Homo sapiens: one gene and its partner. The protein of the gene in region 2 purifies or fractionates together with the protein of the main gene of each other region. This does not show direct contact. Each region holds a gene or a part of one and is shown on either strand. Other genes may lie near its edges.

Evidence for each region. The genes of interacting proteins can lie anywhere in the genome.
Region 1: the proteins of PNO1 (region 2) and MIB1 purify together in Homo sapiens (affinity purification with mass spectrometry; one large-scale study listed by BioGRID and IntAct). This does not show direct contact.

What each region holds. Positions count from the first base shown.
Region 1 is NC_000018.10:21,747,186-21,750,840, forward strand, and holds part of MIB1 (E3 ubiquitin-protein ligase MIB1), read left to right. Parts: intron 1-3,655. UniProt on the Homo sapiens protein: E3 ubiquitin-protein ligase that mediates ubiquitination of Delta receptors, which act as ligands of Notch proteins.
Region 2 is NC_000002.12:68,167,842-68,171,496, forward strand, and holds part of PNO1 (RNA-binding protein PNO1), read left to right. Parts: intron 1-3,655. UniProt on the Homo sapiens protein: Part of the small subunit (SSU) processome, first precursor of the small eukaryotic ribosomal subunit.

The DNA of each region.
Region 1 (3,655 bases), on a different chromosome or scaffold from region 2:
CTGTAAAATGTCTTTCTTATTTTATTTCCTCCACTAAAACAATGTTGTAAATTATGAAAGTCTATCTAGTTCTTAATAGTCCCTGTAGATTGCAGCTTGGTTGAGCTGAGGACTTCAAGAAATCAACTAGTAGACCCCTGTGTCAGTACTTCTCAAACTTAAAGCACACAGATCACCTGGGGACCTTTTAAAATGCAGATTCTGGTTCAGTAAGTTTGGGATTCTGCGAGAGTATTTCTAATAAGCTCATAGGTGATGCAGATACTGCAGGCTCAAGGACACACTTTGAATAGCAGAGTACTAAGTGACTATTTGTCTACTTGAGATGCCCTGCGTTTCTGTTTTCTCCTTTTCCTTTCAACAGATTCCAAGCCTTGATTGTTTGTTGGTAATACATGTCTTTAAAACTAGATTGGCATTATTAGTTGGGGAGAAGAGAAGTGTGTACAACTGAAATAAAGGAGCATGTAACACCTTTCTAATATATGTACTTTTTGTAAGTGTAATGCTATCTTAATGTGTATTTTCGATCCTATACTTTCCAGCCTGTCCCTCTGATTAGATTAGCTATTTCTTTTTGAATGTGTTCCCAGGTAGCCACCCACCAGGGTCTCTCCTCCACCCTCTATAATTGCTAGCTAGTGTGATATCCCCACATGTGTGCTTTCATCTGTTAAAGCAGGGTATGCTGTGTTGTAATTGTCTTTTGCACTAGATTATTAGTTTAAGGGAAAGGGTCTGTGTTATTCTTGTATCTCCATTTTCTAGCAGAACCATGTCTCTGGATGAGTATTTTCTGAATCAGACACACTTTTCAAAGAGCTTTTGACTCATTGGATCAGAGATTAGATAGATATTATCCTAAAACAAGATAAAAGGAAACTCAGATTCAGAGAGATTAAGAAATTTGTCCAGTCACAAAGCTGGTGAGTGGCAGATAGTAGGGATGAATGCCAGTTGATTGCTTTTCCTCAGTATCATTCTCTTTTTCTTTTATAGTATAGTGGTTCAGAAACATGACCACCTGTAACACTTTGCTTGTGGGAAAATTGATAATGAAATGTAAACCAATTTAGAAATGAAACTTTGTGATACATCCTGTTGTAAATTGTTCAGTGCTCTTTTCAAAACCATTCTTTTTTTGCTTTGCTTTGCTTTTCTTCCTCTCTCCCTCCCTCCCTCCCTCTCTCCCCCCTCCCTCTCTCCCCCCTCCCTCTCTCCCTCTCTCCCTCTTTCCCCCCTTCTCCCTTTCTCTTCTTTCTTTCTGGAGTTTCACTCTTGTCCCCCAGGCCAGAGTGCAGTGGTGCAGTCTTGGCTCACTGCAACCTCTGCCTCCTGGGCTCAAGCCATCTTCCCACCTCAGCCTTTTGAGTAGCTGGGACTACAGGTGCGCACCACCATGCACAGCTAATTTGTGTATTTTTTTGTAGAGATAGGGTCCTGCCGTGTTGCCCAGGTTGGTCTTGAACTTGTGAGGTCAAGTGATCCATCTGCCTTGGCCTCCCAAAGTGCTGGGATTACAGCTGTGAGCCATCATGCCCAGCCTTTTTTTTTTTTTTTTTTTTTTTAAAGAGTTTCACTCTGTTGCCCAGGCTGGAGAGCAGTGGTGTGATTATAGCTCATTGCAACCTCGAATTCTTGGGCTCAGGTGATCCGCCTACCTCAGCCTCCCGAGTAGCTAGGACTATAGGTGCACACCACCAAGCCTGGCTAATTTTTTTTTATTTTTTATTTTTCTTAGAGTTGAGGTCTTGCTGTATCACCCAGGCTGGTCTCAAACTCTTGGCCTCAAGTGATCCTTCAACCTCAGCATCCCAGATTGCCTGGATTACAGGCATGAGCCACTGAGCCCTGCTTGTTTCTTTCTAGTGTGTCTTTTTTGCACAGCTAAGGTTTTACTGTATACATAGTTTGTTTCATTCTTTTTTTTCCACTTGACGTGTGTTTTCTGTATTCCTTATAAATAATCTAATATGTACTTCCTATATGGTAAAATAAGGTGACATTTATGTCTTAACTACTTAGAGAGAAATATATATGTATTTCCATATAGGTATGCCATATGTACTGTTCTTCAGCTTTCTTTTTAAATGAATATTGTCTTGGACATCTTGCAGTGTTAGCACATAAGAATCTGTCTTATTCTTTTTGGTCGGTACATAGTATTTAATAGTTAAAAAATATATTACTTAACTATTCTTTTGATAGACATTTATAGTGTTTTCTTTTTTGTCATTTTAAACAACACTGCAACAAGTATCTTTGTGTATACATACCTTTGTGTACTAATTTTTAGCTTTTAAATTAATTTGTTACAGGAATTTCTGTTATAAATGACATGGCTAAATATTGTCCTCACTGACTTTGAGAACATTTGTCTTTTAATAGAGGAATTTAACTTGTTCATATGTATTGTGACAACTGATACATTTTTTCTAATTACTGCTACCTTACTCTTTTTTTTTTTTTTTTGAAATGGAGTTTTCCTTTTATTGCCCAGGCTGGAGTACAATGGCGCGATCTTGGCTCATCAAAACCTCTGCCTCCCAGGTTCAAGTGGTTCTCCTGCCTCAGCCTCCCAAGTAGCTGAGATTACAGGCATGCCCCACCATTCCCGGCTAATTTTTTGTATTTTCAGTAGAGACCGTGTTTCCCCATGTTGGTCAGGCTGGTCTCGAACTCCCGACCTCAGGTGATCCACCCACCTCAGCTTTCCAAAGTGCTGGGATTACAGGCATGAGCCATCACACCTGGCTGCTACCTTACTTTTTAACTTTCCAGTTTTCTTGTATTTTTTTTTTTAACCAGTGAGTTAGAAATTTTATCACCTTTTTTTCTGCTCTGCTAATTATTACCTTTTAATATTTAACAAACAGATTGAAAAATTAGGTTTTTTTTGCATGTAGAAAAACTAAACAGTCTCTTTAATTACTCCTGCCCATACTTCTTTCTTTATTTTTTTGAGGTGGAGTCTCACTCTGTTGCCCAGGCTGGAGTGCAATGGCATGATCTCAGCTCACTGCAACCTCTACCTCCTGGGTGCAAGCAATTCTCCTACTGGGTGCAAGCGATTCTCCTACCTCAGCCTCCTGAGTAGCTGGGATTACAGGCGGGTGCCACCATGTCCAGCTAATTTTTGTATTTTATTTTTATTTTTTTTGAGACGGAGTCTCGCTCTGTCGTCCAGGCTAGAGTGCAGTGGCAAGATCTCAGTTCACTGCAAGCTCCGCCTCTCGGGTTCATGCCATTCTGCTGCCTCAGCCTCCTGAGTAGCTGGGATTACAGGCGCATGCCACCATGCCCCGCTAACTTTTCATATTTTTAGTAGAGACGGGGTTTCACCGTGTTAGCCATGATGGTCTCCATCTCCTGATCTTGTGATCCGCCCGCCTCGGCCTCCCAAAGTGCTGGGATTACAGGCGTAAGCCACCACGCTCGGCCTAATTTTTTGTATTTTTAGTAGAGATGGGGTTTCACCATGTTGGCCAGACTGGTCTGGAACTCCTGACCTCAGGTGATCCACCCGCCTCAGCCTCCCAAAGTCCTGCGATTACAGGCGTGAGCCACTGCGCCCGGCCATCTCCTGCCCCACACCTCTTACCTTTTTCATTGTGTTGGTTTTATGTAAATTTTCAGGAAAATTAGTCCCAAATTT
Region 2 (3,655 bases):
AGATCCTTCATTTTCCTTTTGCTGTAAGTTGTCATATAATGACTTAATTTTTTTCTCCATCATATTAGACTCTATAGATGTGTCTTTCTTAGAACAATCCTGCACCCACATAAAAGCTGCATTTCCAATTTGAGATTGTCAAGAAAAGAATCACAAGATCTATAAATTTGGAGAGGAAACTTTATTTCTTAGAAAGGGTTGCAGTCTGCAGGGTGGCCATTCTGACAGGCTGGAAAGTATAGCCTTCAGCAGAGACCAAAAGCAGGCACTCTGAAGGAGGAAAGGATGAGACAGGAATTTATGCTGAATGCGTTGGCCAAGTATACTTATTTAACAGGTTATAGGAGGAGCTCTGAATATAAGAGGGGTCCTAATGCTTGTATACCGAGTAAATGTACAACCCCTGGTCGCTTTGGGGTGGAGACTTAACATTTAAAATACCTGACAATTAGATCCTGTATGTTACAAGATGAAATAGGGACAGGGACATGACAACTGAATGCACTGCCTCTGGAAGCTGGTAGTACCAGTCCATGGTCAGTGATCTCTTATCAGGAGATGTTACTGGGATCAGTCTCTTGTCCAATCAAAGCTGTAGTTACTGTTTGTGGAACAGAGTGTGGGAAGAGGGAAGCTGGGGTCAATCTGTATCTAGCTGTTGGTGAGCTGTAATTGTTTTAATATTGTTTATCACAAGGCCAGTGCTTGTTAAGCTGCTAGAGAAAAAAAAATATCCTGTGGCAATTAGAATGTCATTTACTCTTTAAGTGTAGGGTGTATGACTTAACCCTTGCCCAGGTGGTCTTAGGTCTTGTTTACAATTTGATATCTTATTGCCACAGTCTGTTCTGTCTTGCCTGGGCGCCTAGGGGCTTTATTTTTATTTTATAAGATAAAGGGGTATTTGGCAAAACTGCAGGTGTATTCATATCTGCTGTTATAGCTGCAGTGACAGCTTCATGAATTTCCTTTTCTTTTTTTTACAATGGTCCTATGGTATAGTCATTTATCTTGAAGTGGTGGGCAACTGCAACTGCAGGCCTCAGTCAACAGTACCTATCAAGCAATTCAGCTTTTTTCTTTTTTTTTTTTTTTTTTTTTTTTTGAGATGGAGTCTCCCTCTATCGCCAAGGCTGAAGTGCAGTGGTGCAATCTCGGCTCACTGCAACCTCCACCTCCCGGGTTCAATGGATTCTCCTGCCTCAGCCTCCTGAGTAGCTGCAACTATAGGCATTTGCCACCATGCCCAGCTAATTTTTTTGTATTTTTAGTAGAGATGGGGTTTCACCGTGTTAGGCAGGATGGTCTCAATCTCGTGACCTCGCAGTCCACCCGCCTCGGGCTCCCAAAGTGCTGGGATTACAGGTGTGAGCCACTGCGCCTGGCCAGTTCAGCTTTTTCTTGTACTGTCATGACTTTTCTGTGCTGCTTTGGAGCACTCCCAACATCACTAGTGGCACTTTATGTGGGACCCACGTTGGGTGGGTCCTATGGTCCCAAAGCTTACAATATTGCACTAAGATTAAAAATAGGCAAGAACTGCGAGAAATCACTTTCTACTGTGATAGACAGTTTATTGGAGAGTCAAAACTGCTTATGGGAGATAATCAGCATCACATGTGATCAGCATCACATGGCATTCTAAGTGGATACTTGCAACACCTGAGCTCACCACAAGAGCAATAGGTGGTGGCTGTGAAGTTGTCGTACAGTATGCACTACAGTTAATTTTATGGAGTTATGATTTAATACTGCATCTTTGCATTTGTTTCCATTTCTCTTGACTACAAATGGCATCATATATGGCTTGTGTTTGTGTGCGTAAGTTTTAATTTTAACTTTTTATAATAGATTTGTGTATATTTTACGGTAGTAAATAAGATAGACTAGTACCTACATACAGTTTATGCATTCATGACGTAGCTTTTTCTTAATTTTTTTGACATTTCTACGATACTTAGCTCCTCTCTGGGTTTTTTCACATCTCCAAAATATCTTCCAGTATATGTGTTGAAAAAAATTTGTGTGTAACTGGACCTGTGCAGTTCAAACCTATTATTCAAAAGTCAGCTGTATTACATCTTGTTTATCCAGTCACAGTAGATGGACTTTTGGGTTGTTTTCAGTTTGTGGCTATGAGAATAATGTTGCTACTGAATTACTTATATCTTTTGTGTTTTCTTACAAACTGAATTACAGACTACTTGAAATTAAGAGATGTACTATCTCTTGCTTTTGCTGTAGACAGGCTAGTTGGAAATCCACGTTTAACAGTTTATATTAATTATAATAAAGCTGTTAGATGGGCTGTTGTGTACCTATAAAAGTTATTTTTGATGAGTTGCCAATAACCTGGCAAAATACAGTAAGTATAATGTGAGCCAGATAGAAAACTAAAAACAATTGGTTCCAGGTATGTTTAATACAGCAGATGGGAAATGATGTTGCCTCTGTGTCTTGAAGCCTCCATTCCTTTCCAACTATTGCCCCATTACTTTGGTTCTTTGTGCAGCAAAACTACTCCCATCTGTTCTTGTTGTCTTTATTTCCTCATCTGTCATGCTCTGTTTTAAATAATTTTAATCAAAGTTAAACATACACATAGTTTTAAAAAGCCAAATATTGGCCGGGCGTGATGGCTCACACCTGTAATCCCAGCACTTTGGGAGGCCGAGGCGGGCGGATCACAATGTCAGGAGATCGAGACCATCCTGGCTAACACGGTGAAACCCCGTCTCTACTAAAAATACAAAAAAATTAGTCGGGCGTGGTGGTGGGCACCTGTAGTCCCAGTTACTTGGGAGGCTGAGGCAGGAGAATGGCGAGAATCCGAGAGGCGGAGCTTGCAGTGAGCCGAGATTGCGCCACTGCACTCCAGCCTGGGGGACAGAGCAAGACTCCGTCTCAAAAAAAAAAAAAAAAAAAAAAGCCAAAAATTTCTACTGCCTACCTCCATTTCACCCTTTTCAGGGGAACCAATTTCAACTCTTTTAGCTTATCTTAAAAAATTATTTGTCTCTGTATTTCCAGATATTTTGTTCATATACAGCCTCTTATTTTTCAGATTCACTATTGACTTTCTACCATCAAAGATGAAGATTTAGCTGTCTTTCACCCCCTTACTTCCACTGCACACACTCAGCCTTTCTGTCACTCCGATTTATTCTTCTCTGTCCTCCTGATGGTCCCCTTGTGGTTTTTGTTAGATTCGTGTTCAGTATTACCTGAAAACAGAAATCAGTGCTCAGTGTACTTATAGCTGAGCCAGGTGAAATACTGTGACTGCCTTATCTTTCTTTTGCAGCATTGTTTTCACTTGAGGAAGTAACTCTTATGTGTCTATGTCCTTTCTTCATTTTCGTCGTACTAATTCAGTAAGAAGCTATACGTTGTCTGTATCTCCTCTTGATGTATTCGAATGCATCTAATATTTGAGAAATCTCTCCTGGAGATGTTCTGTTCCAAAAACGCCCCCATGCTTTCTGCGTGCATTCTGGCTGCACAGCCATCATCCTGGGTTCCCTGTCCCCTGCCTCTTGGAGTCTCTTTCCCAGAGTTCTGCTTCTTGATATTCCTGCTGCTGATTTAGGCATCAGTTGACTTCGGTCTGCACAGTCAGTTCCATCTCCTCCATCTGCTTTCCACCTTTTTGGAC